Linked DNA regions of Homo sapiens. The protein of the gene in region 1 interacts with the protein of each later gene in a pairwise test. Each region holds a gene or a part of one and is shown in the gene's direction. Other genes may lie near its edges. The genes, in order: CLEC2D, ENTPD8, TM4SF18 and B3GALT5.

What was found.
Region 2: the proteins of CLEC2D (region 1) and ENTPD8 interact in binary tests that used the Homo sapiens proteins (3 or more experiments, as listed by UniProt).
Region 3: the proteins of CLEC2D (region 1) and TM4SF18 interact in binary tests that used the Homo sapiens proteins (3 or more experiments, as listed by UniProt).
Region 4: the proteins of CLEC2D (region 1) and B3GALT5 interact in binary tests that used the Homo sapiens proteins (3 or more experiments, as listed by UniProt).

What each region holds. Positions count from the first base shown.
Region 1 is NC_000012.12:9,679,051-9,686,862, forward strand, and holds part of CLEC2D (C-type lectin domain family 2 member D), read left to right. Parts: intron 1-1,872; coding exon 1,873-1,983; intron 1,984-7,812. UniProt on the Homo sapiens protein: Receptor for KLRB1 that protects target cells against natural killer cell-mediated lysis. Inhibits osteoclast formation. Inhibits bone resorption. Modulates the release of interferon-gamma. Binds high molecular weight sulfated glycosaminoglycans.
Region 2 is NC_000009.12:137,438,171-137,446,714, reverse strand, and holds the start of ENTPD8 (ectonucleoside triphosphate diphosphohydrolase 8), read left to right. Parts: upstream 1-5,357; 5' UTR 5,358-5,429; intron 5,430-8,409; 5' UTR 8,410-8,429; coding exon 8,430-8,544. UniProt on the Homo sapiens protein: Canalicular ectonucleoside NTPDase responsible for the main hepatic NTPDase activity. Ectonucleoside NTPDases catalyze the hydrolysis of gamma- and beta-phosphate residues of nucleotides, playing a central role in concentration of extracellular nucleotides.
Region 3 is NC_000003.12:149,330,295-149,338,427, reverse strand, and holds the start of TM4SF18 (transmembrane 4 L6 family member 18), read left to right. Parts: upstream 1-4,791; 5' UTR 4,792-4,915; exon of another isoform or gene 4,916-4,924; intron 4,925-4,989; exon of another isoform or gene 4,990-5,028; 5' UTR 5,029-5,045; coding exon 5,046-5,222; intron 5,223-8,008; coding exon 8,009-8,098; intron 8,099-8,133.
Region 4 is NC_000021.9:39,615,262-39,623,073, forward strand, and holds part of B3GALT5 (beta-1,3-galactosyltransferase 5), read left to right. Parts: intron 1-7,812. UniProt on the Homo sapiens protein: Catalyzes the transfer of Gal to GlcNAc-based acceptors with a preference for the core3 O-linked glycan GlcNAc(beta1,3)GalNAc structure. Can use glycolipid LC3Cer as an efficient acceptor.

The sequences.
Region 1 (7,812 bases):
AAATCTAATTCTCTGCTTTTATCCCATGTGTCATTTCTGTTATTTATTTTATTTACATGTAAGAATACATAAGCATATAAATATATATAAAAGATGTATACATAAGCACACATAATTAAATATATTGCTACTATTGTTATTTTGAACAAACTGCCATTTGTTAGATCAATTAAGAATAAGAAAAATAGTTTTATTTTACCTTCACTTATTTTTTATATTGTTCCTTTTTCATATAATTTAGGTTTCTAACCTGTATAATTCTCTTTCCTTTTAAAATAATTGCATTTAACTTTTTTGTTTTTTGATATAAGACAAGTCTACTGGCAACAAGTTATCTCAATGTTTCTCCAAAATAGTGGTTGTTTCTCATTCACTTTGAAGAATTTTTTTGGCTAAAGAATTCTAAGTTGATAAGGTTTTTTCTCTTAATACTTTAAATATTTGTTTCCACTGTCTTCTTGCTTGCATGGTTTTTGAGAAGAATGTAAATGTCATTTTTATCTTTGTTTCTCTACATGTAGAATTTATTTTCCTCTGGATTCTCTTATGATTTCTTAAATCTTTGATAAAGGGGGTACAGGGGCATATGTGAACTCTATATTTTTAATTCAGTATTTCTGTCAACTTAAACTGATAAAAACTAAAATCTATTGATTAAGACAAATATCTTGGGAAACATCAATGTAAAGCTTGCTGATCTCTCTAGTGTTGGGGGGAATGTTGGAGAAAAATATGCCTATTTAGCTAAGGACAAACCTAGATAAATTAACTAGAGGTGTGAATTGTATGCAAGAGATTGTGTCAGAACAGGGTTCCAATAATGAACTTCATAAGAGGTTTTAGATAACCTAAGACATTTTGAAATATAACACAACTACAGGAAATTATACAATACAAATATGTAGCTTGATTAATTATTATAAGATAAACACCTTTGTTGACTCCTGATATGGCCTAGCTGTGTCTTTACCCAAATCTCATCTTGAATTGTAGTTCTCATAATCCCCACTTGTCATGGGAGGGACCCAGTGGGAGATAACTGAATCATGGAGTTGGTTACCCTCGTGCTGTTCTTGTGATAGCGAGTGAGTTTTCATGATATCTGATGGTTTTATAAGGGGCTTTTACCCCTTTGTTAGGCACTTCTGTCTCCTGCTGCCATGTGAAGAAGAACACGTTTGCTTCCTCTTCCACCATTATTGTAAGTTTCCTGAGGCCTCCCCAGCCATGTAGAATTGTGAGTCAGTTAAACTTCTTTCCTTTTTAAATTATCCAGTCTTGGGCAGTTCTTCATAGCAGTGAGGATGGACTAATACAACTGCTAACATTGTCTAAGAAAGATCCTTGTTATGTGGCTCAGAGGCCCTCCATGTATTCTTAACTATTCACTCTCCTATCCTTCCAAGAATAACACTAATTTGACCTCTACAATAATCACTTTATCACTCCAGTTTTGCCTTTTTTCCTCCAAAACAATGCCTTTTAAGTCTATTTTAATCGATAGATTTCCTCTTAATATCATTTAAAAATATTTCTTTACATTTTTAGACAGGAATCAGAATAATTTGCTATGTTGAATTTCCAGTTACTTGGATTTTGTTGATTTCATTCCTGTGGTTTAGTTGACATGAATCTCTCCAATTGAAAGGGTAACTTGAATATGGTAGCTGGAAAGTTAAAATCAATTCTTTTAACTTTGGAAAATGATTAAATTCTGGAGATAGAATAGTAAGTTCATAAGATGACAGGTCATTTGCATCCTCTAGTGAAAAGCGAAGGAATTAAATAAAAATAACATTTTGATGCTTAATGTTTCTGGCAGTATTATGTCTGTATTTAATTGTTAAAATGTTTTTCAATAATTTTTTCCAGGTTGTCTGCATTCAAAAGAGCATTCTATTAAAGCTACCTTAATTTGGCGCTTATTTTTCTTAATCATGTTTCTGACAATCATAGTGTGTGGAATGGTTGCTGCTTTAAGCGGTAAGTGAACTGTAATCTTTATTCATCTAGAGAGAATTATACTTGTAAAAAGAAGAGGAAGAATCTGAATAATTTTGTTATTCTTTACAGCTTTTAATATATTGTCTCACTAACTGAGTTACACTCCAATAACTTTTTAAGTGGCACCAAAAATTTTAATTATGTAAATAGGGTTCACATTATTCCAAGTTTAGTGAGATGATCAGAGTCTTCAGAAGGTAGAAGACAGACCACTATTCCTTAAGAATATTGATGCAAAAATTAAAAAAAATAGTAAACTGAAAAATAGTCTCTTGTCCGATCTAGGAACATGGTTAATTTTACCTCCACAACAACCTTGTTTCATGAAAAATAGCAAAACAGATGGTTTAAAGTACACAAAACTACTAAGTGGCTGTATAACATCACAGGCAGCCTGTTCTTTCTTCCTAGCTATTTGAGCATGTTCTGGCCCTTGTTTTTTTTAGCATATGTAGCCCATCTTCCTAGAAAACAAACTCCGTTTAGTGATTGTACCCTAAAAGCAATTAGCTATAAAAATTATCTTGTACTTCAAAACATGCTTGCAGTGCATCTAATATAGACCAAGCGAAGACATAGAAAACTACAAAAGCACTTCCCCCAAACCTCATGCCAATCTGGATATCAACCTAAAATCTACCCCCTGTTACTACATTCTGAAGTAATTTCAGAGAGACCCTTCAAATACTGCTTACGTAACTTAAGAGTCAGCAATACTTGGAGCACTCCATATAACACTCTAAATAATTTCTATTCATTTGCAAATCTTTTGCTTATTATCTTTTGGCATTTTGAAACCACAGATAATATACTTTATACATTTATGAAGCAAAAATAATTTTTTTATTTCAGAGATTTAAGTCAACTAATTGTAACTATTTAAGAAAGAAAAAATTGGAAAGAGACAATTTCTGTACTCTGTAAGTACCTCAGTATTAATCAAGGGAATGTATTCTGAAATATAATTTAAATTTATAGCTCTTTTTTTTACAGTAAGCATATGAAATTGACACTTATGACTGTTTTCCTTTATTATCCATTATGTGTTTCTCTTCCTTTCAGCTAGCACTTTGGAAATGATTTCTTGTGTGGAGCCAATAGCTGGAGCCATCTTCTAATCTGGTCATTTTCTTTCTTTCTTTTTTTAAATGTGTTATTATGTATTACTTTATATCATTTTTATGTTTTATTTAACATTTAGATTGTTAGTTAACTATTCAAGTGTGGTATTTCCCCATTTAAATCGAGTTATTTAGATTGGCTTTAGTTATAAAAATTCCTAATAGAGCTTTGTAGTTATAGCTCTGGTCCCTAACTTTTTTTTTAAATTATACTTTAAGTTCTGGGATAAATGTGCAGAACCCGCAGGTTCGTTACATAGGTATACACGTGCCATGGTGGTTTGATGCACCTATCAACCCATCATCTATATTAGGTATTTCTCCTAATGCTATCCCTCCCGTTGCCCCCCAACCCTCAACACGCCTCAGTGTGTGATGTTCCGCTCCCTGCATCCATGTGTTCTCATTGTTCAGCTCCCACATATGAGTGAGAACCTGCAGTATTTGGTTTTCTGTTCCTGTGTTAGTTTGATGAGAATGATGGTTTCCAGTTTCATTTGTCTCCCTGCAAAGAATATGAACTCATTCTTCTTTATGGCTGTATAGTATTCCATGGTGTATATGTGCCACATTTTCTTTATCCAGTCTATCATTGATGAGCATTTGGGTTGGTTCCAAGTCTTTGCTATTGTGAATAGTGCCACAATAAACATACGAGTGCATGTGTCTTTATAGTAGAATGATTTATAATCCTTTGGGTATAGACCCAGTATTTCTGGTTATAGATCCTTGAGGAATTGCCACACTGTATTTTCCAAAATGGTTGAACTAATTTACACTCCCACCAACAGTGTAAAAGTGTTCCTATTTCTCTACATCCTCTTCAGCGTCTGTTGTTTCCTGACTTTTTAATGATTGTCATTGTAACTGGCATGAGATGGTATCTCATTGTTGTTTTGATTTGAATTTCTCTAATGATCAGTTATGATGAGCTTTTTATCATATATTTGTTGGCCACATAAATGTCTTCTTTTGTGAAGTGTCTGTTCATATCTTTTGCCCATTTTTTGATAGGGTTTTTTGTTTTATTCTTGTAAATTTTTTTAAGTTCCTTGTAGATTCTAGATATTAGCTGTTTGTCAAACGGATAGATTGCAAAATTTGTCTCCCATTCTGTAGGTTGCCTGTTCACTCTGATGATAGTTTGTTTTTTGTGTTTGTTTTTTTTTTTTTTTTTTTGTGCAGAAGCTCTTTAGTTAAATTAGATCCCGCTTGTCAATTTTTGCTTTTGTTGCAATTGCTTTTGGTGTTTTAATCATAAAACCTTTGCCCATGCCTGTGTCCTGAATGGTATTGCCTAGGTTTTGTTCTCAGGTTTTTATGGTTTTAGGTCTTATGTTTAAGTCTTTAATCCATCTTGAGCTAATTTTTGTGTAAGGTGTAAGGAAGGGGTCCAGCTTCAGTTTTCTGCATATGGCTAGCCAGTTTTCTCAACACCATTTATTAAATAGGGAATCCTTTCCCCCATTGCTTGTTTTTGTCAGGTTTGTCAAAGATCAGATGGTTGTAGATGTTGGGTGTTATTTCTGAGGCCTCTGTTCTGTCCATTGGTCAATATATCTGTTTTGGTACCAACACCATGCTGTTTTGGTTACTGTAGCCTTATAGTTTAATTTGAAGTCAGGTAGCATGATGCCTCCAGCTTAGTTCTTTTTGCTTAGGATTGTCTTGGCTATACAGGCTCTTTTTTGGTTCCATATGAAATTTAAAGTTTTTTTTTTTTTAATTCTGTGAAGAAAGTCAATGGTAGCTTGATGGGAATAGCATTCAATCTATAAATTACTTTGAGCTATATGACTATTTTCATAATATTGATTCTTCCTATCTATGAGCATGGAATGATTTTCCATTTGTTTGTGTCATCTCTTATTTCCTTGAGCAGTGATTTGTAGTTCTCCTTGAAGAGGTCCTTCACATCTCTTGTAAGTTGTATTCTTAGGTATTTTATTCTCTTAGTAGCAATTGTGAATGGGAGTTCACTCATGATTTGGCTCTCTGTTTGTCTGTTATTGGTGTATAGGAATGCTTGTGATTTTTGCACATTGATTTCGTATCCTGAGAATTTGCTGAAGTTGCTTATCAGCTTAATAAGTTTTAAGGGGATGAGACAATGGGGTTTTCTAAATATACAATTCTGTCATCTGCAAACAGAGATAATTTGACTTCCTCTCTTCCTGTTGAATACACTTTCTTTCTTTCTTTCTTTTACCTGATTGCCCTGACTAGAACTTCCAATACTATATTGAATAGGAGTGGTGAGAGAGGGCATCCTTGCCTTGTGCCAGTTTACAAAGGGAATGCTTCCAGCTTTTGGCCACTCAGTATGATATTCGCTATGAGTTTGTCATAAATAGCTTTTATTATTTTAATGTATGTTCCATCAATACCTAGTCTATTGTGTGTTTTTATCATGAAGGGGTGTTCAATTTTATCAAAGGCCTTTTCTGCATCTGTTGAGATCATCATGTGGTTTTTGTCATTGGTTCTGCTTATGTAATGGATTACATTTATTAATTTACATATATTGAACCAGACTTTCATCCCAGGGATGAAACTGACTTGATCGTGGTGGATAAGCTTTTGATGTGCTGCTGGATTCGGCTGGCCAGTATTTTATTGAGGATTTTTGCATTGATGTTCATCAGGAATATTGGCCTGAAATTTTCTTTTTTGTTGTATCTCTGCTAGGTTTTGGTATCAGGATGATGCTGGTCTCATATAATGAGTTAGGGAGAATTCCTTCTTTTTCTATTGTTTGGAATAATTTCAGAAGGAATGGTACCAGCTCCTCTTCGTACCTCTGGTAGAATTCGGCAGTGCATTTGTCTGGACATGGGCTTGTTTTGGTTGGGTAGGCTATTAATTACTGCCTCAGTTTCAGAACCTGTTATTGGTCTATTCAGGAATCTGATTTCTTCCTGGTTTAGTCTTGGGAGGGTGTATGTGTCCAGGAATTTATCCATTTCTTCCTTGCCTGGGTATCACCAGCAAAGGCTGAAGAAAAGCAAAGATTGCTGCCTGCTCCTTCCTCTGGAAGCTTCATCCCAGAGGGGCACGCACCAGATGCCAGCTGAGCTGTCCTGTATGAGGTGCCTATCAACCCCTGCTAGGAGTTGTCTCCCAGTCAGGAGGCATGGGGGTCAGGGACCCACTTGAAAAGGCAGTCTTTCCCTCAGAAGAGCTCGAGCACTGTGCTGGGAGATCCACTGCTCTTTTCAGAGCTGGCTGGCAGGAATGTTTAAGTCTCCTGAAGCCGTGACCACAGCCACCCTTTCCCCCAGGTGCTCTGTCCCAGGGAGATAAGAGTTTTATCTATAAGCCCCTGACTGGGGCTGCTGCCTTTCTTTCAGAGATGCCCTGCCCAGAGAGGAGGAATCTAGAGAGGCAGTCCGGCTGCAGTGGCTTTGCTGCACTGGCTTTGCTGCACTGTGGTGGGCTCCGCCCAGTCCGAACTTCCCCCAGGGCTTTGTTTACACTGTGAGGGGAAAATCACCTACTCAAGCCTCAGTAATGGCGGATGCACCTCCCCTCACCAAGCTTGAGCATCTGGGGTCCACTTCAGACTGCTGTGCTGGCAGCAAGAATTTCCAGCCAGTGGGTCTTAGCTTGCTGGGCTCTGTGGGGATTGGACCCACTGAGCAAGACCACTTGGCTCCCTGGCTTCAGCCCCCTTTCCAGCAGAGTGAATGATTCTGTCTCAGTGGGTTCCAGGCTCCACTGGGGTATGAAAAAAACTCCTGCAGTTATCTTGGTGACTGCCCAAATCGCCACCCAGTTTTGTGCTTGAAACCCAGGGTTCTGGTAGTGTTGGCACTCCAGAGAATCTCCTGGTCTGTGGGTTGCAAAAACCGTGGGAAAAGCGTAGTATCTGGGCCAGATAGCACCTCACAGCACAGTCCCTCACAACTTCCCTTGGCTAGGGGAGGGAGTTCTCCCACCCCTTGTGCTTCCTGGGTGAAGCAGCGCCCCACCCTGCTTCTGCTTGCCCTCTGTGGGCTGCACCCACTTGTGTAACCAGTCCCAGTGAGATGATCCTGGTACCTCAGTTGGAAATGCAGAAATCACCTGCCTTCTGCATTGGTCTCACTGGGAACTGCAGACCAGAGCTGTTTCTAATCAGCCATCTTGCCCTCTCTGGTCTGGTCGTTTTCTTTAAATTGGTTGATACAGGAGCAGTGATAGCACAACAAATATGCACAGATTTGGGGAAAGTCATCCTGCATTATGGTCTGGTTCAAGAAATTACATTTTAATAGTTATAATTTGGTATCACCTTGTTTGTGATACCAAACCAGATACAATACACGTTTGCCTCATGTTATGATTTGTTATTCAGATTACACCAGTTATTATTCATAACTAAGAGTGATTTCTCATCTCACAAGAGCCAAATCCAAGGATAATGGTGCCAATTGATAGTAATGATTCTATGAATACCCAGCATTCTGGTCTATCATAGACACTTTCAGAACCATTGAGTTGAAGGTAGAAGGTGGTTATATAATAGAAGATGAACTGGTAGCTACTAGGGGCTCAGTGACAACTATCTGGAGAGACATTCATTCATCTCGATCCCACATGAAGAGAGCATTTCTCCTGATTATATAAGAAGTGGGTCAGAAAAGCCTGTCCAGTGAAGTATTGCTGCCTTCAAAGTGTAGAAAACCTCACTAAATCTCCTTAGTGG
Region 2 (8,544 bases), on another chromosome or scaffold:
AAAGCGACGAGGTAACCCCCTTTTCAATTTGAGAGGGTTTTGATCTGTCGCGCAGGCTGGGGCTCACCGCTGTCTTGACCTCCTGGGCTCAAGCGATTCTCCCACCCGCTCAGCCTCCGGAGTAGCTGGGACTACAGGCATCACCACGCCTGGCTAATTCTTTTATGTTTTGTAGAGACAGGGTCTCACTCTGTTGCCCAGGCTAGTCTCAAACTCCTGGCCTCGAGCAATCCTCCTGCCTCCTCAGCCTGTTACAGCTTTTTTTTTTAAGGTAATCTGGTAACAGCTCTTAAAAGTAGTGTGACTGATGAGTGCACAAGCCCGTCCAGCCCCAGCCGCCCCCTGGCACCTTTTCTGAGGGTGTCTACTGCCCCGCTGTGCTGTGCCCGCTAATCTGGGTGTGGCCCGATCGCACAATGGCTTTTCTGGAAGGATCCGATGCTCACGAGGCTTATTGCTAAGGAGGAAGATGCAACAGGTCCAGCTGTTCCAAGTGACTGGGTCACGCTTCACATCGATGTGCAATGTCTCCTGCCACCTGCCTGGATGCACTCTCGTGACTACCTGGCAGGCTGGGAACAGCACGGGGGAGGCCCCCGCCTGCCCCAGCGACCTGCCTGCCCTGCTCTCAAGTGCAGACCCCCAGGTCTGCACTTCCACGCTCACTACACAACCCCAAGTGGCCCCCCGGGTGGCCCCGTGGCCGGATGTGCACCCAGCAGAGCAGCCACCCTTGAGACCTGGGGTGTGGTCTGGGGGCTGTGTGGAGACCTCCCGCCAGGGTGCAGGAGTGTCTAAGGGCAAGCAGAGGTGTGATTCCTGTCTGTAAGGTAAAACCCCCGTGAGCAGGAATCAATAATGTAGACATGATCGGAATGGTGGAGGGAGCTGTGGCGGTCACACCCTTGCTGTTAGCATTGCCTCTGTGGGGGCAGGAGACAGCAAACATAAAACCTGTCCCTGAAAGGGGCAAGATGGCCCCGATGGCTCCCTGCACCTGTCCTGGTGCCTGCAGGCAGGCGGGTCAGCTCCCCTCCCGCTGCCAAATCTCCCACGTCTCTGTGCGCTCTGTCACCCCTGCTTTCTGGCCTGAGGGCTGGGAAGGGAGGTCTGGGGAGCCCAGGAGCTGAGAAGTACCCAAAAACCACCCCCAACGCCCCCCAACCCTCAGGCGTGCCTGTGAGTGTGTCTGTGTGTCTCACTCTGACTCACCCAGACAACTGACTTCAGCAGCCAACCTTGGTCATTCCCAGAACCACCACTGGGGGGCATACGTGTGGCTAGACTGGGGGCGCCCGAATATCTGTCTCTACAAAAAGTAAAAAAAAAATTAATGGGGTGTGGTGGTGGTGCGTGCCTGTGGTGTCAGCTGCTTGGGACGCTGGGGCAGGAGGATCACTTGAGCCCGAGAATTCAAGGCTACAGTGAGTTAAGATTACGCCACTGCACTCCATCCTGGGTGACAGAGCAAGACCTTGTCTCAAGAAAAAATTTTTAAATGAGTAAAATTTTAAAAAACAGATTTTGTCAGTCTTTCTGTCATTTCAACGCCTTCTCAACCTTGGTGTCTGCTGATGGCCTCTTCCCTGCTGGTCAGGATTCTCACAGTTCTTTGGGTGTGGAGGAATTCTGGTTTGTAATTTTTTTTTTTTTCTTAGAGTCTCTTTCTGTTGCCCAGGCTGGAGTGCAGTGGCACAATCTCGTCTGACTGCAACCTCCACCTTCCGGGTTCAAGTAATTCTCCTGCTTCAGACTCCCAAGTAGCTGGGATTACAGGCACCCACCACCACGCTTGGCTAATTTTTCGTATTTTTAGTAGAGACAGGGGTTTCACCATGTTGACCAGGCTGGTCTCGAACTCCTGACTTCAGGTGATCCACGTGCCTTGGCCTCCCAAAGTGCTGGGATGACAGGCATGAGCCACCACGCCTGGCCTGGTTTGTAATGTTTTGAATCTTACTTAATATGAGACTCGGAGTCTTCCTTTTATCCTATGGTGAACATTGCTGTTTTAGTTTCAGCCTCAGTGGCTATTGGTCCAAGGTCAGTTTTTCTCCAAGATTTTGGGGCACCCTCTGGTCTAGTCACACGTATGCCCCCCAGTGGTGGTTCTGGAATGACCAGGCTGGTCCTGAACTCCTGGCCTCAAGTGATCCTCCTGCCTTGGCCTCCCAAAGTGCTGGGATGACAGGTGTGAGCCACCATGCCCGGCCTGAAGACTTTAAAGTAGCTATTATAGCGGTGCCTAACTGAGCCATCGTGAGCACTTAAAATGTCAGAAGAGAAAGTCTCAGCAAAGGCTGGGCCCAGTGGCTCACGCCTGTCATCCTAGCACATTGGGAGGCCGAGGCGGATGGATCACTTGAGCACAGAAGTTTGAGAGAAGCTTGGGCAACATGGTGAAACCCTGTTTCTACTAAAAACAAAAACAAAAACAAAAATCAGCCGGGCACAGTGGTGCATGCCTGTGGTCCCAGCTACTTGGGAGGCTAAGGAGGGAGGATTGCTTGAGCCAGGGAGTTCACAGCTGCAGTGAGCTATGATCCTGCCACTGGGCCCGGTGGCTCACGCCTGTAATCCCAGCATTTTGGGAGGCCGAGGTGGGCGGATCACCTGCGTTCAGGAGTTCGAGACCAGCCTGGCCAACCTGGTGAAACCCTGTCTCTATTAAAAATACAAAAAAATTAGCCGGGTGTGGTGGCGCATGCCTGTAATCCCAGCTACTGGGGAGGCTGAGGCAGGAGAATCACCTGAACCTGGGAGGCAGAGGTTGCCGTGAGCCTACGTTGTGCCACTGTACTTCAGCCTGGGCAACAGAGTGAGACTTCGTCTCAAAAAAAAAAAATTTATATATATGTATATGTTTTAACTGAATAAAATGAAAATACAACATATCAAAAATTGAGAGAGATAGCTAAACAGTGCTTAAGAGGGAAATTCATAGCACAAATGCTTACATTAGAAAAAAAGAAAGGTTCAAGTCAATAATCTAACCTTCTGCATTAAGAAACCAGAAAAGGAGGAGCAATATAAGCTCAAATCAAGCAGAAGAAAGGAAATACAAGTAAGAGCAGAATTAAAATAATTCAAAAACCGGCCGGGCGTGGTGGCTCACGCCTGTAATCCCAGCACTTTGGGAGGCCGAGGTGGGCGGATCATGAGGTCAGGAGATCGAGACCATCCTGGCTAACACGGTGAAACCCTGTCTCTACTAAAAATACAAAAAATTAGCTGGGCGTGGTGGCACATGCCTGTAGTCCCAGCTACTCAGGAGGCTGAGGCAGGAGAATGGCGTGAACCTGGGAGGCAGAGCTTGCAGTGAGCTGAGATCCGGCCACTGCACTCCAGCCTGGGCAACAGAGAGAGACTCCGTCTCAAAAAAATTAAATTAAATTAAATTAAATTTAAAAATTCAAAAACCAAAAAGAAAAAATTATGAAACAAAAAGCAGGTTCTTTGAAATGATGAATAAAATGGATAAACCTCTAGCTAGCAACACTGATGAGAGACACAGAGGACAAAATTACCAATATGAGGAATGGGAGGGTTAGCACTGCAGACCCTACAGACATTAAAAGGATAACCAGGAAGTACTATGAATAATTGTAGTCACATAAATTTAGCAACTTAGGTGAAATGGACCAATTCCTTGAAAGCCACAAACTACCAAAACTCATTAAATAGACAACTTGAACAATCCTATTAAGTATTAAAGAAACTGAATTTGTACTTTAAAACTTTTCTAAAAAGGAAAGTACTGGCTCAGATGGTTTTACCACCAAATTATACAAAATATTTAAAGAAGAAATTTAATACAAATTCTTCAAATCCCTTCCACAAAATAAAACAAGGACAGCTGGCTGGGCGCGGTGGCTCACGCCTGTAATTCCAGCACTTTGGGAGGCCGAGGTGGGCGGATCACAAGGTCAGGAGTTTGAGACCATCCTGGCCAACATGGTGAAACCCCATCTCTACTGAAAATACAAAAAATTAGCCAGGCATGGTGGCAGGCACCTGTAATCCCAGCTACTCCGGAGACTGAGGCAGGAGAATCGCTTGAACCTGGGAGGTGGAGGTTGCAGTGAGCCAAGTCTGCACCATTGCATTCTAGCCTGGGTGACAGAGCGAGACTCCATCTCAAAAAAAAAAAAAAAAAAGGACAACTTCCCAGACTCATTTTATAAGCCCAGCATTATCCCCATACAGAAACCAGGACTAAAAAAGAAAACTATGCAACTTTGTTGAACACAACTGCAAAAATCCTCAACAAACACATTTGACTCTTATGACCCATGGCAGCTAGTGTATAAAGTTGCTGCAAACACTGAATTAAAGAATATGCTAAACTATTGCTCCTAAGGGAAATGCAAAGTTCTGTTCCTGCAAGCTTCTGGTCACATTTTTGTTAAATGATCAATATATTAATAAAACCTTCTTTTATGTGTATTTTTGTTTAAGGGCACCTTACTTAATATGTATTGTATCACTAACATTGAACTCATGGCCAACAGCGCTAACTCTTGCACGAATGAAGCTTATCCAATGTGTGTTTTCTCTGTAAAGTGCATCTCAGCCTTCTTGCATTTCTGCACTATGCTGAGACGCCATTATAAACAGTGAAATCACCAAGAAAAAGCACAAAAATGCACACACATGACACCAAATATGCTACCAGTAAAGAGAGTCCCGATTGAGACCCCAAGAGGGTTCTTGGATCTCACACAGAAAGGAATTCACCGCCCCCCCGCATTCCCCCACCCTATTCCCCGCCCCCCAACACCCCCAGCCCCACCCAGCCCGGCCCTGGCTCCGCGCCTCCCCCAGCCCCGCCCCGCTTCAGAGGCCCGGACCCCGACGGCGGCGGCCCCGGGACCCACGGCGAGCGGGAAAGGCAGAGTGGCTGCAAATGGAAAACGACGGGCGCCGCGGGGCTGCAGGCGCTTCCGCCCCCGCCCCGGGCCTGGACCTTCGGGGTCACCTGACTCCGACCTGCCCGGGCCGGGCGGCACGGGGGGTAAAGTCCGGGCCGGGGTCAGGAGCGCGGCTGCGGGCCGTGGGGGGCGGGGTCCCGGAGTTCTGCCCCTCGCAGCTCCAGGCTCCTCCTCAGCTTCCCTCTCCTGCCTCCCACCCCCCCGGGGGCGGGGCGACCCTGGGCACCGAGACAGACCCGCGGGTGGGAGATGCGGGGAGACCCTGGGCGGGGGACCCGAGGGTGGAGTGGGCGGGGCGACCTTGGGCGCTGGCCTCAGCCTGCGGGCCCTGGAGCCAGGTGCACAGCGCATCGCCCGAGGCTGTCACCGCCCTGCCCCGCCCACCCCAGCTGTCCTGGACCCAGGGGCAGGGAGAGGCTGGACGCCAGGTGCGCGGACACAGAAGCGTCTAAGCACAGCTTCCTCCTTGCCGCTCCGGGAAGTGGGCAGCCAGCCCAGGTGAGGGTCCAAAGGGATGTCCTGGGGGGGCTGTCCTGGTCTGGGGGGCTGTCCTGGTCTGGGGGGCTGTCCTGGTCTGGGGGGCTGTCCTGGTCTGGGGGGGCTGTCCTGGTCTGGGGGGCTGTCCTGGTCTGGGGGGGCTGTCCTGGTCTGGGGGACTGTTCTGTCTGAGGGGGTGTCCTGGTCTGGGGGGGCTGTCCTGGTCTGGGGGGCTGTCCTGGTCTGGGGGGCTGTCCTGGTCTGGGGGGCTGTCCTGGTCTGGGGGGGCTGTCCTGGTCTGGGGGGCTGTCCTGGTCTGGGGGGGCTGTCCTGGTCTGGGGGACTGTTCTGTCTGAGGGGGTGTCCTGGTCTGGGGGGGCTGTCCTGGTCTGGGGGGCTGTCCTGGTCTGGGGGGCTGTCCTGGTCTGGGGGGGGCTGTCCTGGTCTGGGGGGCTGTCCTGGTCTGGGGGGGCTGTCCTGGTCTGGGGGGCTGTCCTGGTCTGGGGGGGCTGTCCTGGTCTGGGGGACTGTTCTGTCTGAGGGGGTGTCCTGGTCTGGGGGGGCTGTCCTGGTCTGGGGGGCTGTCCTGGTCTGGGGGGGCTGTCCTGGTCTGGGGGGGGCTGTCCTGGTCTGGGGGGCTGTCCTGGTCTGGGGGGGCTGTCCTGGTCTGGGGGGCTGTCCTGGTCTGGGGGGGCTGTCCTGGTCTGGGGGACTGTTCTGTCTGAGGGGGTGTCCTGGTCTGGGGGGCTCTCCTGGTCTGGGGGGGGCTGTCCTGGTCTGGGGGGCTGTCCTGGTCTGGGGGACTGTTCTGTCTGAGGGGGTGTCCTGGCCTGGGGGGCTCTCCTGGTCTGGGGGGGGGCTGTCCTGGTCTGGGGGGCTGTCCTGGTCTGGGGGGGGCTGTCCTGGTCTGGGGGCTGTCCTGGTCTGGGAATCTGTTCTGTGTGAGGGGGTGTCCTGGTCTGGGGGGCTCTCCTGGTCTGGGGGGGGCTGTCCTGGTCTGGCGGGGGCTGTCCTGGTCTGGGGGGCTGTCCTGGTCTGGGGGGCTGTCCTGATCTGGGAGTCTGTTCTGTGTGAGGGGGTGTCCTGGTCTGGGGGGGCTGTCCTGGTCTCAGGGACTGTTCTGTGTGAGGGGATGTCCTGGCCTGGGGGACTCTCCTGGTCTGGGGGGGCTGTCCTGGTCTGGGGGGGCTGTCCTGGTCTGGGGGGCTGTCCTGGTCTGGGGGGGCTGTCCTGGTCTGGGGGACTGTTCTGTCTGAGGGGGTGTCCTGGTCTGGGGGGCTCTCCTGGTCTGGGGGGGGCTGTCCTGGTCTGGGGGGCTGTCCTGGTCTGGGGGACTGTTCTGTCTGAGGGGGTGTCCTGGTCTGGGGGGCTCTCCTGGTCTGGGGGCACTGTCCTGGTCTCGGGGGGGCTGTTCTGGTCTGGGGGGCGCTTTCCTGGTCTGAGGAGCTGTTCTGATCTGGGAGGCTGTTCTGGTCTTGGGGGTCTTTTGAGTGTGGGAGAGGTTGCCCCAACCTCTTTGCCTACCTGGAGGCTCAGGCCTGGGGGTCTCAGGTGGCTACATCTTCTGGGTGTGGAGTCCCTGTGTTCCTGGCCCCTGTCACCTGTTTGTCCCTATGAGGTGGCCTATGGCCTGGGTGCTGGTTGGGGACACAGGCTGGGCCCTGTCTGGGCTGGACCGGCCTCCTGTCCTCTCTGAGCCTCTGTCATCTACCCTCCTTAAAATGGGCTTATATCCCCCGGACATACAGAATTGCGTGAGGACCCCACAGCGTGTCCCACTTTCCACGTGCCCAGGAGCCCCAGGTCAGGACCAGGGCAGCACCCGCGCCTGCCACTCAGTGTGGGTGCAACGTTTCCCGGGGGAACACGATAGGACACGGTCACATGGGGTTCAGGTGCCGGGACCTTGGCAGGCAGCCTCTGGCTTTGACCACTCCTTTGGCAGTGGTACCCGTGTGAAGTGGGGCTGTATGGGGCACAGGGTCGGCCTGGGGTAGTTTGAGAGCTGAGACCCTTGCTGGGCGTTTGGGCAGAGGAGGAGGTGGACACCTCGGCCACAGGGCTAGAGAAGCCCAGGCCCCTCAGATGGCATCCCTGGGTCCACCTCCCGACCAGGCGCCATCTGGCACCAGCTAAGAAGGTGCAGAGTCAGATTAGGGAAGCCTTGGGCTGGATTTCCAGAGAAACCGATGTTGTTAAGAAGCCTCACACTCGGCTTCCTAGGATGGCTGGCCTCACCCTGGGTTCACCCACAGCCCCTCGGCAACAGTCCCCTCAGGGCTCCAGAGAGAAACCCCCACCCTAGGAGTGCCTGGGGTGGGGGCCGCAGAGAGGAGGCAGAGCCCTGGGCCCCCAGTGCAGGCTGGAGCTGTGGCTGCTCCTGGGGAGGGTGGCACGGGAGAGGCAGGACCGAGGGGTGGGGACACAGGGTGGCCCCATCACATGGTGGGGGCAGCTCCGCGAGTCCCATCCGAGGGGGTCCGAGGGGGCTACTTGGATCCTGCTGGGGCTGTGTCCCCAGACGAGGCCTCTGCTGCCCCCCGCCCCCCTCCCACAGGGCCCTCTGATGCCCATGGCACCCCTGGCAGGCGTGGCTCCTGGGGAGTGGTCCTTGGCCACGGGAGGCGTCTGAGCCCCGGGGATGCCTCTATGGCCACGGGAGACCGTCTGAGCCCCGGGGATGCCTCTATGGCCACGGGAGGCCGTCTGAGCCCCGGGGATGCCTCTATGGCCACGGGAGGCCGTCTGAGCCCCGGAGATGCCTCTATGGCCACGGGAGGCCGCCTGAGCCCCGGAGATGCCTCTAAGGCCACGGGAGACCGTCTGAGCCCCGGGGATGCCTCTATGGCCACGGGAGGCGTCTGAGCCCCGGAGATGCCTCTAAGGCAAGTGGCTGTCCAGGGGTGCGTCTCCAGGGAGACGGGGAGCGAAGCCTCTGCCTCTGGAGGGCGGGATGGGGACACCAAGTGCAGCCTGGGTGCCCACGGCCGTCCCCCCACAGGAACCAGTACCACCTGCACCATGGGGCTGTCCCGGAAGGAGCAGGTCTTCTTGGCCCTGCTGGGGGCCTCGGGGGTCTCAGGCCTCACGGCACTCATTCTCCTCCTGGTGGAGGCCACCAGCGTGCTCCTGCCCA
Region 3 (8,133 bases), on another chromosome or scaffold:
GAGCAAAATATTGACAATAAAAAGTTTTTTTTAAAGTCAAATCTCAATTAAGTTAAACCTCCTTAGAACCTTGCAAGTATGTCTAGTAGAACACAGCTACTTCTGGGTTTCCTGGTAGCCAATGACCCCCTTCAGCGATTATTCTGCTCCCACCCTTTCTTAATTCTCGTTTCAGTGCCTGTTAGAACCTCTATGAGAGAAGGTTTCACATCGAGGAAAACGAAGAGCCAAATCAAACATTTTCATTTTTTTTTAAATTCTGCTTAAAAATCACTGGGAAGGGGAGTGGTGACTATTGGATTAAGAAACTGTAAATTTCAATGCTAGATGATATTTCCATCTCCCACCTGCAGTTCAGTCCCCCTCAAGGTTACTTTCTTTTTTTAAAAATTTATTAAGTAATTAGTTTATTTTTTATTATTATACTTTCAGTTCTAGGGTACATGTGCACAACGTGCAGGTTTGTTACATATGTATACATGTGCCATGTTGGTGTGCCGCACCCATTAACTCGTCATTTACATTAGGTATATCTCCTAATGCTATCCCTCCCCCTGTCCCCCACCCCACGACAGGCCCTGGTGTGTGATGTTCCCCTTCCTGTGTCCAAGTGTTCTCATTGTTCAGTTCCCACCTATGAGTGAGAACATGCAGTGTTTGGTTTTCTGTCCTTGCTATAGTTTGCTGAGAATTATGGTTTCCAGCTTCATCCATGTCCTCACAAAGGACATGAACTCATCCTTTTTTATGGCTGCATAGTATTCCATGGTGTATATGTGCCACATTTTCTTAATCCAGTCTACCATTGATGGGCATTTGGGTTGGTTCCAAGTCTGCTATTGTGAATAGTGCCACAATAAACATACATGTGCATGTGTCTTTATAGCAGCATGATTTATAATCCTTTGGGCATATACTCAGTAATGGGATGGATGGGTCAAATGGTATTTCTAGTTCTAAATCCTCCCTCAAGCTTATTTTCTTTCATTCCTTGAAGAGTCTAGCACCTGGCTTTCTAAATGTAGTCATTCTCTCCCAAACTGACATTGTCTAATTTTTTATTTTAGTATTCATTATAAATGATAATTCCAATACACTTCCCTTTCCATTCCTTTTCACCAGTCATCTTGTCCTCCACCTCCCTACACTACTCACTCCTAGGATCACAACTTGTGTCAGTCTGCTAGGACTGACATAACAAAACACCACAGACTGGGTGACTTGAACAAAAGACATTTATTTTCTCACAGTTCTGGAGGCCAGAATTCCAAGGTCAAAGCAGATTTGTAAGTTATGTGCCAAATCTCAAAGCAGATTTGTAAATTATGTGCCAAATCTGTGTTGGCAGATTGGTTTCTCCTGGGGCCTTTCTCTCTTTGGCTAGCAGATAGCCACTTCTCACTGTGTCCTCACACAGTCTTTTCTCTTTGCACCCCTGGAATCTCTTTGTGTGTCCAAATTCCCTCTTTTTATAATCTGATTGGATTATCCCCACCATGCTGTCCTCATTTTAACTTCATCATCACTTTAAAGGCCCTATCCAAATACAGTCACGTTTGAGATTATGGGGGGTTAGAACTTCAACATGTGCATTTAGGAGAGACATGATCAGCCCATAACACACCTCCAGACTTTTTCTTCGCCTATTCCTGAAACATCTCTAAAATCTCAAATTCCAGCATCACACTTCTCAATCACTACTTCCTCTCTTTCTAGCTCACTCTGTGTGTTACCTAAAACCAGTAATTTTTCAGCCACACTGGGACACACAATTTACAAATCCAGTGCCTCTTTTACTATTTCTCACACTCCCTCACGTCCTTACTTCCCTCCTTACTCAGCTTAAGTTCCACAGTCCATCATTATAACCATTCACTTGCATACATTCTTGAATCCTTTGCCCATCCCTCTCTTCATGGTATCTGCCTGGCAAAGTCCCAATCCTGGTTGACTCCAGCTTTCTTCCTACTTGCTGGCTACACCTCTGCCACTGAACCTTACTAGGAAAAATACCCAAGTCTCCTGTCCAGTCTCACTATCCATTCACGGTCACAGACTCAAGTGGTCCCTCAGCACCTGCCACATTTCTCTAGTCTGTTCATTCTCCCACTTTCCAAGCCAACTGTTTGAACTTCTCCTCTCTTCCTTTAAACCTTTAACACCCTCTCCCCATCCTCATTCTCAGCTGATAAAATTGCCTCCTGTTTCCCTGAGAAAACAGAAGTATAATAATCAGAAGTTCCCGCTAACCACCTCCAAGCCCATTGCTATGTTCTCCTTCTGTTCTGTTGCTGACACTGACCTGCCCTGCTGCTATCTAAGGTAAGCTCCTCCATCTGTTCACACACTCCCACCCTTTCTCACCTACTCAAGGAGCCTGTGCCAGCAATCCTCTCCTTTATCTCCTTTATGGTAAATACCTACCTACCCTCCCTCATACCCCTTCCCACAACAGTATACAAATATGCTACCATTTTTTCCATTAATTTTTGTCCCTTGACTTCTACTTTTCCTCTAGCTGCTGCCCCATTTCTCTGCCCTCCTTTACAGCAAAACTCTCCAAAAGAGTTACCTCATCTATTTCCAATTTCTCTCCTCCCATTCTCTCATGAATCCACTGCAGATGGACTCTCATCTCATCTCTAACTCACCAAGAAAGCTCCTCTTATGAAGGCCACCAGTGACCTCCACGTTGCTCAACCCAATAGCCGATTCTCAGTTCTTTCGTATGATGTGCCCTTTGGCAGCATTTAACTTTGTTGATCACGCCTTCTTCTTCTTAGAAAGTCACCTTTGAGAATAAGCTCCTGATCTTCATTTCTGGCTCACTGGCCATTTCTCAGTATCCTTTCTGCCTTCCTCTCATGTCCCTAAACTCAGTCCTGGGCTGCCCAGGATTTAGTCCTTGGGTCTCTTTTCTATCAACATGCATTTCCTTAGTGTCTCATGGGTTTAAATACCATTTATATGCTGACAACTGTCACATTTATATGTCACCCAGACCTCTTCCTTGAACTTCATATTTGTATATCCAGCTGCCTAGTTGACATCTCCACTTGGATTTCTAAAAGGTATTTCAAAACTTAGCACATTCGAAACTGACCATATCATTCCTCTTCTCCCAACCCTGCTCATTCAGCTGACTTGCTCATTTCTGTTAATGACAATTTTATTCTCCCAGTTTCTCGGGCCCAAATGATGTCGTCTTTGACTTCTCTCTTTCTCTTATACCCACATCCAATCTGCCACCAATCCTGTTGGCACAAGCTTCAAAATATATCCCAAATCCAGCTTCCTTTTTTTTTTCTTTTATTATTATACTTTAAGTTTTAGGGTACATGTGCACATTGTGCAGGTTAGTTACATATGTATACATGCGCCACGCTGGTGCTCTGCACCCACTAACTCGTCATCTAGCATTAGGTGTATCTCCCAATGCTATCCCTCCCCGCTCCCCCCACCCCACAACAGTCCCCAGAGTGTGATGTTCCCCTTCCTGTGTCCATGTGATCTCATTGTTCAATTCCCACCTATGAGTGAGAATATGCGGTGTTTGGTATCCAGCTTCCTTTTACCACCTCTGCTGCTACTACCATCATGATCCGAGTCATCATTATCTCTTACCTGGATGGTGGAAATGGCTTCAGAACTCATCTCTATCTCCTCCACACCCTTTACCACCTATTTACAACACAGCAGCCAGAGTGAACCTTTTAAAACATCAAGCACAGTGCCTGCCACATAAGAGATGCTCAATGAATGCTCAACCAACAATGTTATTCTCTTCCCAATCATCCCAGGAACTCTAGTAAATATGATTTTATGCTGCTTCTATGTGACTGGAAAAAACGTCTAATGCCCAGATTTTTTGATGCACTTAGATCAAAAGCACTAGAGGGAAAAAAAACCATATCCACAAGGGGGTGCCAAGAAACCTCTTTGGAACCTGGACTGCTAGTTTCTTTCTTTCTTTCTTTCTTTCTTTCTTTCTTTCTTTTTTTTTTTGAAACAGAGTCTTACTTTGTCACCCAGGCTGGAGTGCAGTGGAACGATCTCGGCTCACTGCAACCTCCGTCTCCCAGGTTCAAGTGATTTTCCTTCCTCAGCCTCCAGAGTAGCTGGGATTACAGGTGCCCAGCACTATGCCAGCTAATTTTTGTATTTTTAGTACAGATGGGGTTTCACCATGTTGGCCAGGCTGGTCTTGAACTCCTGACCTCAGATGATCCACCCGCCTCAGCCTCTCAAAGTGTTGAGATTACAGGCTTGAGCCATTGCGCCAGCCCTACCTTTGTTTTCTTAATAGTAGGAAAAATATGCCTTTATTTCTGTTATGATTTTTCAGAGAGGTAGAGATAATAGATGCAAACTCTTGGAAGGAAAGCTGTACTGATCTAACCAAGATATTTTGTTTTTCTCATCCACCAGTCACTTTCTCAGTCCTTTCTTATCCCTTGCAATTTGAACAAAGCTTGGTGAATAGTGTGCACACAAAAAGCACACTAGGTGAAAGACAGATACATAAAAAGGGTAAAGTCAGGATATTTTAACAAACCTATCAAGCTCTAAATATAAGCCTCCTTGGTAGTTTTCTCTTTAACCCTCTCTCCACTGTTGGATGAAATTTGCTGCATTCAATTCCAGTTCCCACCCCAACTTCCTTCTTAACACAAGGTCAGGGTTAAGCCTTCGGTGCTTTAATCCAGAGGAAAATTACTTATTTTAAAAAGCAGTGAAAAACACCGCATTCCTTTGGCACAGGATGAAGACCAGCTCAGCTCTTCAGTTGTTGATCATTGTCTATTGTTCTCCAAACAGTAAACCAGTATTTCACACTGAGATTGTCGGCTGCGGGTATATTCCAATTCCCCGTCTCCTCATGAATATGAAGTGAAGGGCTCTGACCCTGGAAGTGGTAGGTAATCTCAAAAAAAAAAAAAAAAAAGAGAGAGAGAGAGAAAAAAAAGGTCAGGTAGGAAGAAGAAAAATAGACTTTCTGTGACTGTATACTCTTGAAATCTCCCGCAGGTTCTAAGCAGGGCAAAATGGGGTCTCGGAAGTGTGGAGGCTGCCTAAGTTGTTTGCTGATTCCGCTTGCACTTTGGAGTATAATCGTGAACATATTATTGTATTTCCCGAATGGGCAAACTTCCTATGCATCCAGCAATAAACTCACCAACTACGTGTGGTATTTTGAAGGAATCTGTTTCTCAGGCATCATGGTAAGTATGAATTTGGAGACTTGGGAGAGAAGGGGGAGTTGTAATTGAGACTTACCTTGTAACTAGTAGAAGTAATGAATAATGGAAAAATCATTCTGCTAATCTTGGGTGTAGGATTTGAAAGAGGGATGGGGGTGAAGGGGCAGGTAATCTGCTGGCATTTGGGACATAGCTCTGTTTTCAATAAGCTGCTCAGCAATGCAGCCTCAGTAATGCAGGAAATTAGTCCTAATGAAAGTCTGTGGGACACTGGCCTGTAAAAACAGTATGTTCTCATGAACCCTGCATATCAATTTAAGCTATTTGATCTTCAGTGGCATTACTGTTTTCTAGAACAGATTTTCTGTCTGCACTCATGTTTTTCTAGCTTGAAGGGGCATTAGGACAGCATGAAAAAAAAGCAGAGACTTGGCTATTCAGACAAACCTGCATGTAAATCTAAGCTCTGTCATTTGTTCCATGAGACCTTCAGCAAGTTACTCAGTATCTTTGAGCCTCAGTGTTCTAATGTGAAAAATGTGAATAATGGCATTTACTTTTAAAGATAAAATATATATAAAGTGCCCAGGAGAGAGACTGACATGTAGTAGATAGCCAGTGACTGTTGTAATTATGATTATTAAAGAATGAGCTGTGTCATCATTAAAATAGTCCTACATTAGACCCTAATAATGGAGGGAGTTTTTGAAAAGTAAATTGAATTATCAATGGCAAGAATCCATGAACGTTTTCCTGATGACTTTGTGTTCTTTAAAAATAAACAAACTGAGAGTAAATCATGTTGGCAACTCAGAGGAAAAGACAATTTCCTGGTCAAGTCATTTCTAAAAATAGTGCATTATGGACTGTAAGCTAATCAGACCACCAATAATGTAGAAGAAAATTCATTATAATCTATTTCTACATCTTTTAGGGGTTTTTAATTATTATATTTGAATAGCTGTGTTGTAAAGCAATTTTCATTTAGTTATTCATTTTGCACATTAAATTAATAAACTTTAAAATATTAATATCCAATGCTATTGATGTTGCTATGAAATAAGTACATAACTAATATTGGCTGCACTACAAATAAATGTCAGTCTTTTCGGGAAGAGTTTGGTATAATATATCAAGATCCATGAAAATGCTTATGTCGTTTGACTCAGTAATCCTACATCTCATCATTTTTTCTGAGGAAATCATCCAAAATAAGGGAAGAGCTATGTGTGCAGATGTTTGTGGCTGCATTGGTATAATAGTAAATAACTAGAAGAAGCATCTTACAGAGAAGTAGCAAAATAAATTATGGTACATTCACTTCATACAGTGGTGAAAATTATAATTATGAAGATGTAACAACGTGGAAAATGCACATTATTTCATGTTAAGTGAAAAGAGACACAATAACATTGTGGGTAAATTACTATTGCAGCTGTGTCAAATAGACATATGTGGGAAAACACCAGAAATAAATGCATGAAGACTCACGAGGGTGGTGGAATTATGTGTACTTTACCTCCATTATTCTTGACTCCTCTGTATTGCAGTTATATTTTAAAACAAAAAAAGAAGGCAGTGTCTCTTTCAACAGTTGATGCCTGAGCAATAAGACTACAGGCTCTAGGTCAAATTATCTCTATCAATATTGTAATGAAGCTGGTTACTATGCTTTGGCCTTGTCTCATCATTGTTTCCCTCAATATGCAATTGCAATAGATGGAAGAGTTGCAAGACATAACTAAGATTAGACCAGAATTTCTTTCAATCTGTCATAACTAACGATGTGGAAAGGAGGGGAATATAGGACTCTTTTGCTTATATTCCATGTAAAAATTAAAACTAGGAAAAGAAACCTGTTCTCTATTTTTTTCATCTTCCAGGAATTATTAAAATATATTACTATAACTGCATCAAATCCTTTTAGGAGAAAGGAGAAGAATATAGGTAAATAATTAAATGAACAAAAAAATTAATGAAAGCTGAAGAAATTTGGAAACTAGAAACATTGGCTACGAAGAGTAAAATAACAGTGAACTCAGCTGTGGGATTCAGTCCTAAATAGTGAGAGTAAAAAAATGGGTGGAGAATTTCCCATAAGCAATTCATGATCTGTATCTAGTCTAACCAGAAATTATAATGAAATTATAATGGTAAAGAAATACATGTTCTTTCCAGAGCTCTGGCCTTTTGCCTAAAATAAAATTTAAAAAAAGGAAATAAGATGCATTGATTCTCCCACTTTGTTGGCTTGATACAGACAAAACACATTGAAACAATTTAAACCTGAGATGGTTTGAATGCATGGGGAAATTGAAGTCACTTTAAAGAGATATGGTTTCAGATTAACTGAGCCTCTCACCTCCATTCCCAGAGGACAGTAAATGAAGAGAGGCTGGCAAACTACCAAGCCTGCTGAATGATTTTCCTTGGTTCTCCACAACTGAGTCATTGAGAAAGGCAGGTTTTGCTGCCCAGGGTGGTATTCTCCTGTCCATCCATTTACTTCTCCTTAATCATTAGCTTTTGATGGTTGCTAACCATGATAATAATAGCTAACATTTATCAGTCACTATGAATCAACCACTATACTCAAAATGTCACATATATTACCTCGTGACGATCTCTTGATACCATTTTATACAGAAGGTGTCTCAAATTCACACAGCTAGAAAGTGACAGAGCTTGGATTCAAATCCATATCTACCTGACCCCAGACTCTATGCTTGAAGACGCTGTCCTCTGATTATAAGCACAAATGTAAACTAGCATTTCATTGCTAACATTTTATGTCTTCCCTCCTATAGATGCTTATAGTAACAACAGTTCTTCTGGTACTGGAGAATAATAACAACTATAAATGTTGCCAGAGTGAAAACTGCAGCAAAAAATATGTGGTAAGAGCAACAGTTTTTTTGAGGATGGTTGAGTG
Region 4 (7,812 bases), on another chromosome or scaffold:
GACAACACTTCTTTGCCCGTGGAAGGAGGGAGTTAACTGACCCTGTGTCTGAAGATGAAAGGTGAAGGGGTGGGTAAGATGATTTATAGAGATTTTGAGAACTAACATGGCCTTCAGTTGAAAACCAGAATTAGGAGCTCTGAGTATCGTGCAGGTGCAGTGAGATTCATTTGAAAAACAAAACAACCGGAATTTTTATATCTAATTTTGAACATCATCCCCACATCCTTAATAGAAGACATCGGAGCCAGAAGTCGTTTGGGACCAAGTTGGGTAAACAGAGTGGCTGATCATTCATTCACGCATTGAATAAATATTCTTGCAGAGATAAATAGCTCAGGCTCTGCAGCCAGATGACTGGTTGCAAATCCCAGCTTTGACAGGTACTTGTTATATGACCTTCGGCAAGTTACTTAATTTCCCTATGCCTCAGTTTCGTTAATTGAAATTGAAGAGAATAATAGTACTTATTTCATAGGGGTGGTTGTGAGGATTACGTGGTTCTGTATATAATAAAGAACAATAGAACAGTGCCAGGTATATACATGCTACTTAAGTTATAGCTATTGTTGTTATTATGACTTCTTGTTGTGTGCCAAGCACTTTACCATGCTGAGTAATAATTGTTTTGGATCAAGAATGAGGTATGGAAAGAAGGAAACAAAACTAGTTGTTTCTTATTGAATTTTAAAAAATAACATGATTTGAAAAGTAATTCCCAAAAAGTTGTGAGAAGAATATTGTGAGCAAGGGCAGAATTATTTTTATAAGATGACTAACATCAGGGGAACAATATTTAGTTTGTTATTTAAATTTTGGTCCCTGTCTTTTTTTTTGTTTAAGCTGTAGACACAGGCAGGAGCATTGCTTGAGTCCAGAAGTTTGAGACCAGCCTGGACAACATAGCAAGACCCCGTCTCTGAAAATGAAAGAGCTCTGATTTTTTATAATTATTGGAAACCATTCCTCAGTGTTCCTATTCACGTTTGCAATGCTCTCTCTCTTTTTCTTACTGTTTCTAATTTATTCATTTTTCCATAGAGGTGTTTTGGTGATCACTGTGCTTCCTAAACTCTGCAAGTTCCCTTTTTAATCTCGTTCCGTCTCCTTGTCATTGCTTGTGGCTCTGTTTTGTTGATTTCCTGTTCTTAGTTTCTTGTAGCAATAAATCATTTACTGTGAAAACTTTTAATCCACTGCTGGGAGTATATTTTCTTCCAGACTGTGGCTTCTTCACTTGTCTTTTGCACATTTCCTTTTGTTTCATTTCCTCCTTCCTTTCTGTGGTATTTATGCATATTTGCTCTGCCATTTCTTTATTTGTCAAGCATATTTAACAAGGGCAGGTTCAGCTGAACCTTTAGATAACAATTTTTTGAATTGTCCTCGATTGCTTCTCTCCTATGTGAACATCGTTTCCTTCCCAGAGCTTCCTTTGGTGTCCTGGAGATACAGTTTATCAGCTTTTCTGTGGCCTGAGGATATGAAGGAGCAGAAGCAGTGGGAATGATGGATAATCATGATTGGTGGATTTAGTCTCTATTCATTTTGATTAAATTTATTAAAATTTATAGTTTTATTAAAAGTTGCTCTCAGGATACACTCAGGTTTTGGATTGCCCCCAAATTCAGGATGTAACTTGGAGGCATTACATTTTTTATTTTTCAAATTTTGAAGTATTTCAAACATGCAGAAGTGAAATAATAATAGAAAAAGCATGTGTGAGTCCACATCCCAGCTCTATTGTGTCCTAACACTTGGCCATACTTGCTTAGATGTAGAAGACAATAGGAAAGCATTGTTGAAGCTCCCTCTGTCCCCTCCCTAGTTCTCCCCATCTCCTTTCATCCCTTCTCACTATCCTGAATTATTACTGTCTTTTCCATGTGTGTTTCCACATCACTTCTATGTATAAATCTGTGATTAATTATGGTATTGACTTCAATATTTCAAGCTCTCTAAAATGGTTTCGTATGGTCCTACTGAAGCTCTTTTTGATTCATTGTTTTCAATATTTATCCATGTTGAGACATAGCTTGTATTACTCCATTTTCACACTGCTATAAAGAACTTCCAGAGACTGGGTAATTTATAAAGGAAAGAGGTTTAATTGATTCACAGTTCTGCATGGCTGGGGAGGCCTCAGGAAACTTACAATCATGGCGGAAGGGGAGGCAGGCATGTCTTACATGGCCTGAGAGAGCAAGTGAGAGAACATGTGAGCGTGTGGGAAAAACTACCATTTATAAAACCATCAGATCTCATGAGAATTCTCTCACTATCAGGAGAACAACATGGGGGAACTGCCTTTTAATCCAATCACTTCCCTCCCTCGACACTTGAGGATTACAGCCGGAGATGAGATTTGGGTGGGGACACAGAGCTAAACCATATCACAGCTGTAGTTCAAGCTTGTCCAACCTGCAGCCCAGGACGGCTTTGAATGTGGCCCCAAACAAATTCATAAACTTTTTAAAAACTTTGAGATTTTTTTAAAAGCTCATCAGCTATCGTTAGTGTTAGCGTAGTTTATGTGTGGCCCAAGACAATTCTTCTTCTAATGTGGCCCAGGGAAGCCAGAAGATCGGATACCTCTGTGGGTGTAGTTCATTCATTTTCATTGCTATGTAAAATGGTAGGCTGAGGTGGGAGGATCTCTTGAGCCCAAGAGTTTGATACCAGCCTGGGCAACATAGCGAATCCTCATCTCTATGAAAAAAATAAATAAATAAAAAATAAAAAATTACCCCAAGCGTGGTGGCATGCACCTGTAGTCCTAGATACTTGGGAGGCTGAGATGGGAGGATTGCTTGGGTCCAGGAGTTTGGGGATGCAGTGAGCCATGATCAATCCAATGCACTCTAGCATGGGCAACAGAGCAAGACCTTGTCTCTTAAAAAAAATTATATTGTAGGATTGTACTACAATTGGCTCAGCTATTGTTTTGTTAATGGACGTTTAGATGATTTTCATTTTTCATATAAAAATGCTATAATAAACATTCTTATACATATCTCCTTTGCATACATGTTAGAGTGTACTTTAGAGTACATACCTAGAAAAGATGCATTGGGTGAAAAAGCATCTTTCCTAGATACTGAAGAATGTTTTCCAAGGGATTTGTACCAATTTATGCTCCTACATACTATACCTCTAACTCAGTTCCTGTTTTTCCACAGCTTCCCCAACCCTTAGAATTATTGGATTTTTAAATTTTTGTTATTGTCATGAGTATGAAGTAGAATCTCAGTGTTTTAAGATGCATTTTCCTGATTCTAGTAAAACTAATCATCTGTTTGTATATTATGTATCTCAGCCATTTGGATTTCCTCTTCTGTGAATGGCCTGTTCATGTATTTTGATCATTTTTCATTTGGAATGTCTTTTTCTTATAGATCTATAGAAGCTCATTTAGAAATTCTAGATCCTTAATTTTAGTAATATACATTGCAAATATCTACTCCGTCTGTGTCTTGTATTTTTACATTTTATTGAACAATAGGTTTTCATTTTTAATTTGGTGAAATTTACCACTTTTTTTTAATGGTTTGTGCTTTCTCTTAAGAAGAAGCTTTTCATCTTATGAAATTCTTCCCCACTCTAAGGCTATAAAGATTGTCTCATATACTGTATTTCTTGCTAAAAGCCTTCAAGTTTTGCTTTTCACATTTAGGTTTTTAATCCTCCTTGGATTTATTTTTGATATGTTGTGAGTTAGGGATTCAAATTCAATTTTTTCAAATGAATAGTCAGTCCTAGGTTGTTAATTCAGTACTCCTTTTTCTGGTGATTTGTAATACCATTTGTAATACCATACTTGTGTAGATCTGTTTTGAGGCTATTTATTCTATTTTATGGTCTGCTTGGGCTGCCATAATGAGATACCATAGACTGGATGGCTAAACAACATAAAATTATTTTCTCACGGTTCTGGAGGCTGGAAGTCTGAGATCAAAGGTGCCAGCCTGATCAGGTTCTGGTGAGGACCCTCTTCAGGGATGCAGATACATCCTAAAGATTCTGTCTGTGTCCTTACATGCAGAAAGAGATTCCTTTCTTCTTATGAGGCCACCAACCCTATTGAATTAGGATCCCACCCTATGACCTCATTTAACCTTAATTACTTCCTCAAAGCTTTGTCTCCAAATACAGTCACATTGGGGTTAGAGCTTTAACACATGAACTTTGGGTGGACACAATTCCGTCCATAGCATTGGTTTATAAATCACAAGTATCTTATTGATGTAATAAGTTTTTATATATACTAGATCAAGTTAGGTCAAGTTTTCCCATCTTGTTTTGCTTTATAATGTATTTAGCTATTTTTTGCCTTTTAGTCTATGTACGAATCTGAGGTTCAGTTGTCAAGTTCATTTCCAAAATTTGTAGGTTTATTTTTGAGATCTCTGTTCTGTTTTGTCATGATGTATTTTGTTTGTTTCTGCCCAAACACCACAAGTTTTAATTGCTGTGACTTTATAATATGTCTTGGTCTGGGAAGGTAAGTTACCACTTTGTTCTTTTCAGCCATTCTTTTTCTTTTCTTTCTTTCTTTTATTTTTTTTAGGCAGAGTCTTGCTCTGTCACCCAGGCTGGAGTGCAGTGGTGTGATTTCGTCTCACTGCAACCTCTGCCTCCCGGGTTCAAGCAATTCTCGTGCCTCAGCCTCCCAAGTAGCTGGGATTACAGGCGTGTGCCACCATGTGTGGCCAATTTTTATATTTTTTGGTAGAGACGGTATTTTTGGTAGAGACAGTATTCACTATGTTGGCCAGGCTGGTCTCGAACCCCTGGCCTCAAGTGATCCTCCTGCTTCAGCCTCCCAGAGTGCTGGGATTACAGGCGTGAGCCTGCCCGGCCATAATATTCCTAATCTTCAGACCTTGTTTGAATTTTTCCAATTTTCCTGTAATGTCCTTTTTCTGGTCCAGGATCCCAGCCAGAATCCCATATTGCATTGGGTTTTCATGTTGCTTTATTCATGTTCAATCTGTAATAGTTCCTCAGTCTTCTCTTTTGTAAACTTGACATCTCAGAAGAGTTCAGGGTAGTTATTTGTAGAGTATTCCTCAATTTGGAGTTGCCTGATATTTTCTTATATGCAGACTGAAGTTATGCATTTTTGGTAATAATACCACGGAAATTTGATAAATGTGATGCATTTTCTATTGGTTCTGATAGTTTACATGTAGAGTCTCTTGGATGTTTTATGTAGATAATTGTATTAGATATTTTGGTTATTTGTGTCTTTCTAGCACATGGGAGGATTTTGCTTCTCCCACCTCTTGAAGTTACGCAAAGCATGTGGCTTTCCCTGGCCAATGAAAAGGGAGCTAAAGGGATGTGTGCTGAGACATTGAATTGCAGGTGCATGATTTCCCAGCTGTCTTTGCTCTGCTTGTTTAAAGCAAATGTTGATATGAGCATACCATTAGATCAAAATAGCATATGATAATAAACCGACCTTTGTATGCTTGCCTTCAAGAGTAGCCTGAATTAGCAATTGATTTTGCTTATGAGAAGATAAACTTGCAGTGTTAAGACCCCGAGATTTTGGGGTTGTTTGTGGCATAACCTAGCCTATGTGGTCTGACATAATAATCATATTGTCTATAAACAAGAATAGCTTAGTTTCTTCTCTTTTATTTCTTATATACATCTTTTCTGGTCTTATTCCATTGGCTGGGACCTCAAGGGCAATGTTTAATAAAAGCAGTGACAGGTTAGGTACAATGGCTCATGCCTGTAGTCCCAACATTTTGGGAGACCAAAGCAGGAGGATTGCTTGAGGCCAGAAGTTCAAGACTAGCCTGGGCAACATAGTGAGACCCTTTCTCTGAGAAAAAAAAGTGATAATGGACATCCTTGTCTTCACCTTCACCTTAATGGGAATGCTTTTAAGTTTCACTATCAAATATGTCTATTTTAGATATTTGATGGACACCCTTTGTCAAATTAAGAAAGATCTCTTTTTTATTATGAATTGGTGCTGAATTTTATTGATTCTTTTTTGATGTAGCTTTTGAAATAATCATAGACTTTTTCTTCCTTTAATTTACTGGTATAATTTATTAGTGCATTTCTTGTGTTTTATTTAGGACCTTTCCATTTGTATTCAAAAGAGATATTGTTCATAATTTTCTTTTCTTTTACTATCCTTGTCTGAAGTTGTGTATTTTTTCTCTGTCTCTTGGAAATGGCTTGCACAAAAAGGTTTTTTTTTTTTGTTGTTCCTTTAAAATTTGGTAAAGCTCACCTCTAAATCTTTCTGGGTTGTTGCATCGTAGAGTGGAGGCAGTGGACTTCTGATGACAGATTCATTGTTTATTTAGGTTCTATTTCCTTTTGTTTATTCAGGTTCTATTCCTTTTCAATGAACTACATTAATTCATGATTTGCTGGAAAATTATTTCAAAGTTTTGAAATTTATTGGCATAAAATTGTTCATAGTATTTTCTTATGATTTAACATTTTAAAAATTTCTCTGTTGCAGACCTTTTTGACTTTAAATATGATTTATTTCTGTCTCTTTTTTTCTTGTTAAATCTTGGTAAAGTTTTATTTGCTTTATTAGTTTTTCTGAAAGAAACAGTTTTTGAGTATGTAGATAATTTCTTTGGTTGTTTTATTCTGTGTATCAATGACTTGATAGTTATATCCTCGTCTTTTTCTTTTTCTCACCTTTCAAATGTTTATTGCTCTTTTTTCGTAGCTTCTTGAAGTATATGCTTAATGTATTCTACATATTTATTCTTTTGACCTATAACTTTATTTCTAAATAATTTTTAATTGCTGTCCACAGGTTTTGATATGTTGGTCTTTCATTTTTATTTGGTTTAAAATATCTATTATGATTTCCTCTTTAAGCCATAAGTTTTTTTGAGGCCTACTTTTGAAAGTTTCAAAACACACATTTTTCTCCAGTATGTTTTTATTGTTGATTTTTAATCCCCATAAGTGGTATGTGTGCAATTGAAAAGAATGTTTACTTTCTGTTTCTGTATGGTTTAATAAATGAAGTTTATTAATTTTCATTGTCAAATCATTATTACTAATTTTTGTTCTATTTGGTTACACGTTTCTAAAAGAAATGTGTAAAAATAAAATTTATTCTTAGAATGCTATCAATTTTTTGTTATATGTTTTGATGCTGTGTTGTTGAAGCTTACAAGTTCTAAAGATCTATATTATACTATCTATATTATAATAATTTATGGTGAATTGCTATGTAGTGTTGATACTTTTGGCTTGAATTCTTTTTGCCTTACATAGCTGCATTAGGGGTTGGTTTCTTTTTCTTTTCTCCCCCTAACTAATAGCAAGTATCTTTCCTGCCTATCGTTGTAGCTTTACTTTGGGTGTGTCATTTGAACTCGCATATAGGTAGATTTTTTCCAACCTGCTTATTGTGTTTCTAAGCAAGTGAACTTAATCCATTTATAATATACATAATTTCTGAGGCCTTTGGATTTAATTCTTTTATCTCATTATGTGTTTTCTTTTTCATACCTTTTTTCTTTAGTTCTCTTTTCTTCATTTTTTCGTCTCCTGTTGGATTGATACAGTTTTCTACATTCCCATTTTACTTCTTTTGCTGGTTTTCAGACTGTAGACTGTATATATATTTTTAATGATTATATTTAATCTTGAATCATGTATTTTAACGATATATAAACATTTTTGGTATTCCTGGTATTTTCTCTATCATGACAAGGACCTCAGCACAATTTAACTAACAACCTTGTTCCCTTATTTTGTAACTATTCCTTAGTTTGAACTTGTAAATTTTCTTTTCTTTTCTTTTCTTTTCCT